Homo sapiens: one gene and its partners. The protein of the gene in region 2 interacts with the protein of the main gene of each other region in a biochemical or structural test. Each region holds a gene or a part of one and is shown on either strand. Other genes may lie near its edges.

The links.
Region 1: the proteins of RGS3 (region 2) and HES4 form a complex in vitro, tested with the Homo sapiens proteins (one large-scale study listed by BioGRID).
Region 3: the proteins of RGS3 (region 2) and SLCO1C1 interact in a test that uses a peptide from one of them, tested with the Homo sapiens proteins (one large-scale study listed by IntAct).

Annotation. Positions count from the first base shown.
Region 1 is NC_000001.11:998,464-1,001,338, reverse strand, and holds HES4 (transcription factor HES-4), read left to right. Parts: upstream 1-1,241; 5' UTR 1,242-1,365; coding exon 1,366-1,473; coding exon of another isoform or gene 1,474-1,551; coding exon 1,552-1,647; intron 1,648-1,725; coding exon 1,726-1,813; intron 1,814-1,906; coding exon 1,907-2,280; 3' UTR 2,281-2,375; downstream 2,376-2,875. UniProt on the Homo sapiens protein: Transcriptional repressor. Binds DNA on N-box motifs: 5'-CACNAG-3'.
Region 2 is NC_000009.12:113,578,727-113,582,226, reverse strand, and holds part of RGS3 (regulator of G-protein signaling 3), read right to left. Parts: intron 1,300-3,500; exon of another isoform or gene 1,222-1,299; intron 156-1,221; exon of another isoform or gene 1-155. UniProt on the Homo sapiens protein: Down-regulates signaling from heterotrimeric G-proteins by increasing the GTPase activity of the alpha subunits, thereby driving them into their inactive GDP-bound form.
Region 3 is NC_000012.12:20,736,832-20,740,331, reverse strand, and holds part of SLCO1C1 (solute carrier organic anion transporter family member 1C1), read right to left. Parts: intron 3,226-3,500; coding exon 3,060-3,225; intron 149-3,059; coding exon 1-148. UniProt on the Homo sapiens protein: Mediates the Na(+)-independent high affinity transport of organic anions such as the thyroid hormones L-thyroxine (T4), L-thyroxine sulfate (T4S), and 3,3',5'-triiodo-L-thyronine (reverse T3, rT3) at the plasma membrane.

The DNA.
Region 1 (2,875 bases), on a different chromosome or scaffold from region 2:
AGAAGCCTTTGGGACCACCCGGCGTCAAGAAGGCTTTTGTCCACCCAGGCCACCCACCTAATTCGGTTCTCTTACGTGACTGCTGAGTCTGCCATCTGCCTCCTGCCCGGATTGAAAGCCCGGGAGGGTCTCCACACCCGGGCCCAGGCCAGGCTCTCCAGGGGGCTCAGGAAGCCTCCGCTGCACGGACGCGTGAGGCCGCCGGGGACCCCGAGTGCGGAAAGGACCAACGTGCCCCGCAGCGGCATTCGAAATAAAAACAGCAAACACGAAAATAACCACAGCCCTGTTTTACGCAACCTGCCCCTTTGCAGTTATATTAACAGTGGCCCCTCATTTTTCTGTGAGCCCCACTTTGCTGCTGCTGAGTTCGCCAGCGGGTCACCTGGAAGCACGTGGCGACACGGGCCACATGACGTCATCCCAGCAGGCTTGCGTCATCGCCCCGGGTGCCTGGTGACGTCACCAGCCCGCTCGCGTCACGCGCACGTTCTGCTCCTCGTGGTCCGGCCCGGCCCGCGCCATCACCGGCCCTGCTCTGCGGGGCCACCCGTGCGCCCCTTCGCCGTCCGCTGACTCCGCCCTCCCGCCTGCCGACCCGGCCGCCGACCTTCCCCCGGCTCTGTCGCTCCCAAGGCTTTCTGCAGCCCTCCGTGCTCCAGGCCGCACACCTGAGGGTGGGACCCCCGGAGGCCGAGCCGGTGTCGGATCAAACTCGGAGACCGAGCAGGGCCCAAACCGGGACCGGAGTGGGGACGGGCGGAGGAAGCCAAGAGGCTCGAGACCGAGGCTCGCCCACCCCTCGGCGCCGCCGGACCCTGCGCCACTGGGGGAATTTCCTTCCCGACTTCCCGCGCGGCCACAGCCCCAGCTCCGTCCAGCCCCGGCTCCCGGCCCCCTGGGCGGGAGAGTGAGCCCCGAGACTCCGCCCAGCCCCGGGGGTCCCGGGCCCCGTTCGCCCCCAGCGGCCCCTCCCGGCGCGTTGCTCGGCCCCGGCTGCATCGGGGAGCGCGGGATCACCCGGCCCTGTCCCCAGCGGTGTCGGAGGGGGGCGCGGGCGGGGGCCCCGCATGCCATTGTCGCCCGCGGAGGCCGCGCCCGGAGCCGAGGCGTGACTGACAGCGAGCGGGGGAGGAGCGCGGCCGTCGATTGGCTGGGGCGAGTGTGGGAAAGAATGCGGAGCCGGGTTCACACACCCCGCGGCGGCGAGGCCTTAAATAGGGAAACGGCCTGAGGCGCGCGCGGGCCTGGAGCCGGGATCCGCCCTAGGGGCTCGGATCGCCGCGCGCTCGCCGCTCGCCCGCCAGCCCGCCCGTGGTCCGTGGCGGCGCGCTCCACCCGGCACGGGGAGGCGCGGGGCGCACCATGGCCGCAGACACGCCGGGGAAACCGAGCGCCTCGCCGATGGCAGGAGCGCCGGCCAGCGCCAGCCGGACCCCAGACAAGCCCCGGAGCGCGGCCGAGCACCGCAAGGTGGGGTCCCGGCCGGGCGTGAGGGGGGCGACCGGGGGGCGGGAGGGACGCGGGACTCAGCCGGTGCCCGACCCGCAGTCCTCCAAGCCGGTCATGGAGAAGCGGCGCCGAGCGCGTATTAACGAGAGCCTCGCTCAGCTCAAAACCCTCATCCTGGACGCCCTCAGAAAAGAGGTAAGTCGGGGGCGAAGGCCCGAGACCCGGAGTCTGGGTCGCAGCTGACCTGGACCTCCCGCCTATCCCCGCCCCCAGAGCTCCCGCCACTCGAAGCTGGAGAAGGCGGACATCCTGGAGATGACCGTGAGACACCTGCGGAGCCTGCGTCGCGTGCAGGTGACGGGTGAGGCGCGGGCGGCGGCGGCTTGGAGGCGGGGGGAGGGCGCGGGACCCCCGGGACCCGGCACCGACCTCTCCTCCTGTGTCGCTCCCGCAGCCGCGCTCAGCGCCGACCCCGCCGTTCTGGGCAAGTACCGCGCCGGCTTCCACGAGTGTCTGGCGGAGGTGAACCGCTTCCTGGCCGGCTGCGAGGGCGTCCCGGCCGACGTGCGCTCCCGCCTGCTGGGCCACCTGGCAGCCTGCCTGCGCCAGCTGGGACCCTCCCGCCGCCCGGCCTCGCTGTCCCCGGCTGCCCCCGCAGAGGCCCCAGCGCCCGAGGTCTACGCGGGCCGCCCGCTGCTGCCATCGCTCGGCGGCCCCTTCCCTCTGCTCGCGCCGCCGCTGCTGCCGGGTCTGACCCGGGCGCTGCCCGCCGCCCCCAGGGCGGGGCCGCAGGGCCCGGGTGGGCCCTGGAGGCCGTGGCTGCGCTGAGGCTGTGGCCCTGAGACTGCATCGGAGGCGGCGCCCCGTTCTAGGGCCGTGGCCTTTGCCGAGACTGTAGCAGAGAAAACGTATTTATTATTCCAGAGTCTGCGTCACGAGTTTTCTTTCTTTGTCTTGGTGAAGAGTTGACTTTGGGAGCGCCCCGCAGCCACGCCGCGCCGGGGTCCCGCCCTCCTCCCAGGGCCGCGGTCTGCAGGTGGCTGGGGGCGTCGGGCGGGCCCGGGGGGGCGGGCTGGGGGCGGGACCGAGGACTGAGGGCGACCCCTCCGCTCCGCGCCCTCCGCTCCGCGCCCTCCCCTCCGCATCCCTGCAGCCCCGCATGCGCACCCGCCCTCTGCCCCCGCGTTGGGTTTGCCTCGCTCTGCGGTGGCGGTTGTGAGGGGTCCCCCCGGAGGCTCAGGTGGGAAGCTCAACGTCCCTGAGTGCCCAGAATCTTCCCGGTGCTGGAAGGCGGTCGCGCAGCATCGCCGGGCAAGTTACTTTTCGGAGGCCCCTTTCCCGACTCCCAGTCCCCGGACCGCGGAAGGCGGAGGCTGCGGTCCTGAGCGGCGCTGGGATGAGGGCGGCCGCCCTTGGCCCTGAA
Region 2 (3,500 bases):
GCCCTGACAGCCAAAAGCCATGCTCGAAGCTGAGAAGTCTTTGAAGCCCTGGGGAGTCTGTAATGGTGAAGCCCCACAGCTGGGAGTCAGTGTTCAGCCATGGCTTGGGGCAGCTGCAGGCTGCTGCACACACGTGTCAGGGGTCACGCTGGCATCTGGGAGCACAGATGTGAGCGGATGTGAAAGCTCGGCACGGGTAAGAGCCACAGCCTGGGAGTGTGAAAGTGAAAGTGGAGCCCTGCAGAGCAGAGAAGGTGGCTGGGCAAGGGAGGGGAGGCCTTGGAGGACTCTAGCGTGATCTGGCCAAGGTCGGGAAGGGCACGCCTTAGGCTATGGCTCACAGGCCAAAGACAGGTGCCTGCTGATGCTGTGGCCTTCTTGCCCTGGAAATCCTGCCTGCAGCTCAGAGGTGACTCCACACAAGGGCCCTCTCAGACCTCATAGCCTCAGACTCTGAAACAACAGCGATCCGAAATCCCCACTGCATAGACAGAAAGGCTGAGGCCCAGAGAGGAGCAAGGGGCAACCTAGAATCACACAGAGGTGTCAGGTAGAGCCAGTCACCAACCTTTAGGCCTCAAGGTGTCCACGTATGAAATGGGATAACCAGCATGCCTGAGTAACAGATCAGGAGCGTATGCTGGAAAAGCTGGAAAGCTCGAAAGCTCCTACAGAAGATGGTGGTGTTGGAGTTAGTGCTTTAAAAAGCATTGATCTAGAGGGAAATTCTGAAGTTAAGGACCTCAACCAGAGGCACGTGTTTCCCACATACACCAAATTTTGCCAAACACCAGAGTCAGTGTTGGCAATTGTAATGTCAGGGCCTCCAGTCCAGAATTCTCATCTGGAAACTAAGGGCTGTGCTTCAGTCCTATCAGGCTGTTCCCAGGTGGACAGAAAGACCCTCCATTGGGTAGACAGGAAGGCTGAGGGCCCAGTCTAGACAGTGACTTAGTGACTTGCCCAAAGCCACCCTGCACAAATTAGGGGCTAGGCTGGGGCCAGAGTCCAGGCCTTCTGGCCCTGTTCTTCTCAAGCCCACTTCTGATCTCTGTCCCCATGAACAAACCAGTCCCCAGCCCATCGCCCCACCCACCAGGGAGCATTCTCCATCAGGAGAAACAAACTGCCCTGCAGCCAGCTCCCTGGGGCCCCTCAGTCCTATCACCCTACCACATGGCCAGACCTCCCCCCGACCCACCCCCTGGCCCAGCCACCTGCCTCTGATAGTCCTTGGGGAAAGACGGAAGGAAGCAGCAACCGGGTGCCCTCAGGGCCTGGCACGGAGTGGCACAGAGTGGCACTGAGTGGGGAGCGGGCCGCATTTCCCCTTTCCTGGGTGGTGAGGGTGGGGCCCAGGCCTGTCCCAGTGGTGACTGTCAGTCAGAGCCCGCCCACCCCTTGGGGAAAGTGCAGCAACAAACCCAAAACCAGAAATGCAAGTCAGCCTGCCTCTGCCAACCCTGTTCTAAATCGAGGCCAAACCAAACAAAGCCAGGAGGGGAAGTGCCACTCAGGCAGGGGTACTGCCCCCAGAGGGCACCTACCCAGAGAGATCAGCCGAGAAACTAACCAAGATGGAAGGGTTCTCAGAGGGCCCAGTGGTTATGTGCTCAGATACCCGAGCCAGGCTGATTTTGATCCCAATGGGGCCACTTTTTAGCTGTGCAACTCTGGCCAAGCCTCTCAACACCTCAGAGCCTCCGTTTCCTCATCTGGAATTGAGCCCAGTGATATCATACTGGACTCACAGGACTATTTGAGTCTCCTCACAGTGCCTGGCCCTGGAAAAGCTTTTGATACAATGGGAGCTATCAGTGGTCTTATTTTAGAGATAAGAAACCTGGGGTCCCAGAGGGTAAAGGAATTACCTAAGAATGAGAGGCTGATGCAGGATTAGAACTCATATCTCCTGCCCAGGGTCTCTCCCTGTTTCCTTGGAGCCTTACACACAAGTGTTTGGGGACCTCAGAGGGCTGTAGAAGGAGGAGGAACAGCCTGGAGTGCTGCCTGAGGCCCCGCACCTGGGTGCATCCCACATCAGCAGATGCTGGCGAACAGGGCCCAGAGCTCATGGTTCTTTCTGTGCTCCCAGGCAGGTCTGTATGAACAGGGACTGCGTGCAGGTTTGGTAAGGCCCCTGTTCTTGGGAGAGCTGGGGTGGGAAGTGGTTTGACGGGAGCTCCGGAGCAATTATAGGAAACCCGAGAAACCCAGGGGTGGGAGGGTGGCAAGTGTAGGAGAAAATTAGGGCAGGAGGGGAGGCAAAGATGAGGGGGAGGTTGCAGAACACATGGTGGGCATGGGATTTGCCCTGTGAGCAACGAAATGCCACAGGCAGAGCTGTGCTGTGTCAAAGCTGCTCTGGGGAATGTGGGCAGGATGTGTGGATGGCAGGGAGGACTGGGGCACGCATACATTCATGCATTCTCCAAGCACTGAGGTAGGTACTAGGAGGACGGCAGGGAACAAGTCAGACACAATCTCTGCCCTCAGTTAAGTAGAAAAAACAGAGGTTAGACAACTAGTTTGAAGGAGCATGGGGACTGCTCTGATAGAGGAAGTACAGGCAGCTGGGGACCCAGTGAGACAGCTGTTGCAACAGCTGAAGTAACAAGAATCCAGCCAGGGCGCCCCAGGAAGACCAGCTTGCTCACCCAGGGCCTTGGGTCTAGAGTGCTGGAAGCCACTGCCCCACCCTCCCAAGGTGGGGGTCTGTGTCTTTCCCATCCATCACTTCTTTGGCTTGGCTGGACCAGGTTAATTCTGCCCATGTCTCATCTGCTGTAAGCACACAGGAAATGAACCAGGCCCTCTAAATGGAGTCACTGTTTAGGACCTAATCAAATCCTCTCCCAAATCCAATCCAGAGCTCAGAATAGGCTAAGGAGGGATGGCAGCTATGACACCCAGAGTTCACACTCATACCAGCTTTGGCTCCTGGGCCCCAGATGCCCACCGGATGTTGGGTTGAGGGTAGTGGTGGGCTGCTGAAAGTGACTTGTCCAACATCACACAGCTACTCACTGAGCAGCCAGGTTTGCTGACCCAGGGACAACCTGCAGCTCTCACTCCGATGATTCATCACAGCCACCACGGATGCCGGGCTCTGCATCTGCCCTCGAAAACCACTTCCTGCACTGGGGGGGTGTAAACTGGGGTTTGCCTCTGTCTCAGGGTGGCCCTTAACAGCCAGGATTTTACTGACAGAGCACTGGACATGCAGCCAGAAGACCTGGACTGGAATCTTCACTCCATCATTTGCTAGCTGTGTGATCCCAAGCTACCCCACTCCAAGCTTGGTTTTCTCTGCCATGAAAGTGGGTGAGGATGCCTGCTGCTTCCTGTGCCAGAGACCTAAGGGGACCAAGTGAGAAAGGGCAGGAAGGCACTCTGTGAACTGTAAAGTCCTTTGAGAAAGGGAGAGGCTGTTAGAATTCCTGCCCTGCCTTGGACCCCCAGGCTTTCAAGATGGGCTGTTCCTTCAAGCTTGGCATGCT
Region 3 (3,500 bases), on a different chromosome or scaffold from region 2:
ATAAAGTATAGGATGTGATGACTGAAATTACAAGGAAATACAGAAACATTTGGGGACATCCATTGTCTTTCTGACATCTTCCCACTATGCCTGAGGAATTTCCGGATTTAGAAGCTGCAATTCCCACACAAGTGCAGTTGTAAAATATCTGTAACACGATAGGGAAAAGTCCAATTATTTCAGTAACATTTAAATAAAGTTAAAGACAGTTATGTTAAAAATGTTTACCGTAGCCATGCATTATGTAAACAATGAGGAAATATTCTTTTATTTTTTTGTATTACAGTATATTGAGCAAAGCAAAATCTATATAGATACAACATTTCATTATCTAAAGAGCAGATGACTATCTACAAACTACTAATCCTGTACAACAATCTCCCAGCAAATCCTGCCTAATCTAACCATACCTTACCTCCTTCGCTACCACTTCCAATGCTAAGTAACCATGATTTCTTGCCTAGATTGTTACAATGCTCCCTTTATGCGCAACTTGTTTCCAATCTTATCTAGCTAGTATCTGCTTTCCACCCAGTAAGTAAAGTGAACCTTTAAACATGGCAGTCAGACTGCATCACTACCCTCAACCTGCCAGTGGTTTCTCATCATACTTGCATGAAACCCCACATCCTTATAACAGTTTACACTTTCTCCATCATGTAGCACCTGGATGCCACTCTAATCTCACCATTCAGTGATCTTCCCTCTCTTCTTCTGTGTAAGCCACACACATGACCCTTGCAAAGGCCCCATTTTGCCCTTTCCAAACATCCCCTCAAACCTGGCAAGTTCATCCATGCCTCACGGCCCTGCTATTTTCTCTGCCCGGGCAGCTCTTCTCTTCGGTGATTACACAGCTGGCGTCCATACTTTAGTTCTCCGTTTAGAGGTTTTAATAGAGACCTTCTATGACTATCCATTTAAAAAAAAAAACAAAAAAAAACAACTCCCATCTCTCCATCTTCTTATTCTAATGTATGTCTTTTTTTTACAGTGCTTCTTACTACCTATCAGGATATCCTGTATTTACTTATTTTTAAAACATACTTTCCCAACAGAATGTAACCTCCATGAAAGCAGAAACTGCTGCTTTGTTATTATGCAACTGGGGAATGGAATAGACTCTCATTTTAGGCATTTGATAAAACTTAGTTAAGTAAATGGGAACAATTTGAGGATATGACATAATTTACAGTGGCTATGAGAAAAAAATAATTCTGGTGCATAAAACTCAACTAAATTTTGACTGAAGAGAGACAATTTGTATAACCCCTCAATAGTTTATTTCTGTAAATTTTATTTATGAATGCATATATATAATGTTATCATTTTTAATCACAAAAGAGTTTGTGAGTTTTTAGACCATAAATAAAGCTGGCATTTACTTTTCTAGAAAGAGTGGCAATATAGATTTTTTGTAATGTCAAGTTGAAACCTTTGAATCTTAATTCTGGTCGCTCACTAGATAAATGAGTTAAGCAAGTCCTTTGTATCTCAGTGCCTCAGTTCTCACATGAAGAAAATACTGAAAATAATGCAAATTATTTCAGGACCATGAGATTTAAATGTAATTTTGTTCTTTTAACACCAATCTTTAACCTTTCCTTGTAATGTCTTTTATAAATGGTAGCTCTCATTACAAAAAAACCTTCATGCAGCTGTGAGCAAAAATAACAGTAGCTGAAAGAAAAATAACAAAGGAAGAAAGCAAAGAAAAGAAAAAAAGAGAAGCATGAAAACATGTTTCAGATGAGTAGGTAGTCTTATTCATTGTTGCTAGAAACCAATCCTTTCTGCTGTAAATAAGTCAAAATAATAATACAATGAACAGAGTAAATTAACAAACTTAACTGTATATCTGTGGATATACAGCCTAAGTATTCATATCCAGTTGATAAGGATATATAAATAAATGAGATACATGGGTGGTCTAATTTTCTGCCCTCTAGGATTGTCAAATAAAGGCAAATTTAATCAGTCACAAATAGAAAGCAGTCTCAGAGAGCAAGGATAAGGAAGAGTCTGTTTGGGACAGGAATGGAAAGGTGTGCTGAGAAGGGTGAATCTGTTAATGATTGAAGTACTTTACATCCTTCACAATTGCTTTCTGTTAAGGATTGAATATTTTCCCAAAATTCATATGTTGAAATCCTAACCTTCAATGTGATGGTATTTGGAGTAAAGCATTTAGGAGGTAATTAGTTCATGAGGGTGTAGCCCTCATGAATGTGATTTTAGTGCCCTTATAAGAAGAGACAGGAGACCTGTCTCTCCCTGTCTGCTCTCTGCCATGTGAGGATAAAAGGTGAAGATGGTCATCTGCAAACCAGAAAGTGGGTCCTCACTAGGAACCAGTTCTGCTGGCACCTTGATCTTGGACTTCCCATCATCCAGAACTATGAGAAATAAATGTTTGTTGTTTAAGCCACCCATTCTATGGTATATTTGTTATAGCAGCCTGGACTGACTAAAATAGATTCCTACCTATATTTCCTACCTCATCTCCCTCTTCTGCCCTATGGAAACCCTCCATTCCAGCCCACCTGCCCTTTCATTATTATACAAATTGGCTTGATTTTCCAAAGTTGTCCTAGAACCATCAACCTCCTCATTATCAGATCCCTGACCCCAAGGTCTAGAATCTCTGGAGCTAAGCCTCCTAATACTGGCCTCTATTTGTTCATTCCCTAAAACCTCCAAGGACCACGGATCTTAGGGCCAGGGGACATGGATCTGAAAGCATATCTTATTATGATGATCATACGACAGACATTCTAATTCAGGGCTAACACTTCTTATAAGCAAAATGAGAGAAATAGACTACATAATTACAAAATCTCTTCCACCCTATTTGATGACTCTAATTCTCACCCTAATTTTTTCAGCAACTCCAGTACCACTAGGAATGGTTATAACATTTTCTTTTTCTACAAAAAAGGACCAGGCAGAGGTAAGAGGCAAGCCTCCTACTAGTAGTGGTCTGCTGTGAGCCCCCATAGAGTTTTGTTGTTTATATTGTAACAGGACCATCGCCATATACTTGAGAGGTGATTTCTTACAATATTTTTTCCACTCCTGTTGGAGGTTTGACAACCAGCAAGACAAGCTGATACATATGTGATTCCATTTTCACCGCACATGGGTTCCCATTTTGTCTCTGAACATTTGCATCTTGAGTTGCAATCTGAAAAGAGAGCTCGTTCATGATAAGAGACAGGTTTGGTTCTGAAAAGAAATATAACAATATAAAATATTACCTCTTAGCAGGTAGCACCCGAATATTTTCAAAAAATCAATGTTCTTGAGTGATATAAATGATACTATGAACAAAATTTGCCTTTTAGAAACACAGTTGTCATCAGAAATGGCAGCTTCTGGTCATGAAATGTGAGTTTACTAATAAACAGCTTTCTCTTGAAAGTTATCTTTAGAGGTTTACAAATTCACATGATGTCCAGTTCTTAGCTTATAGCTTTCAGTCTACAGCCTCTAGGATCTTC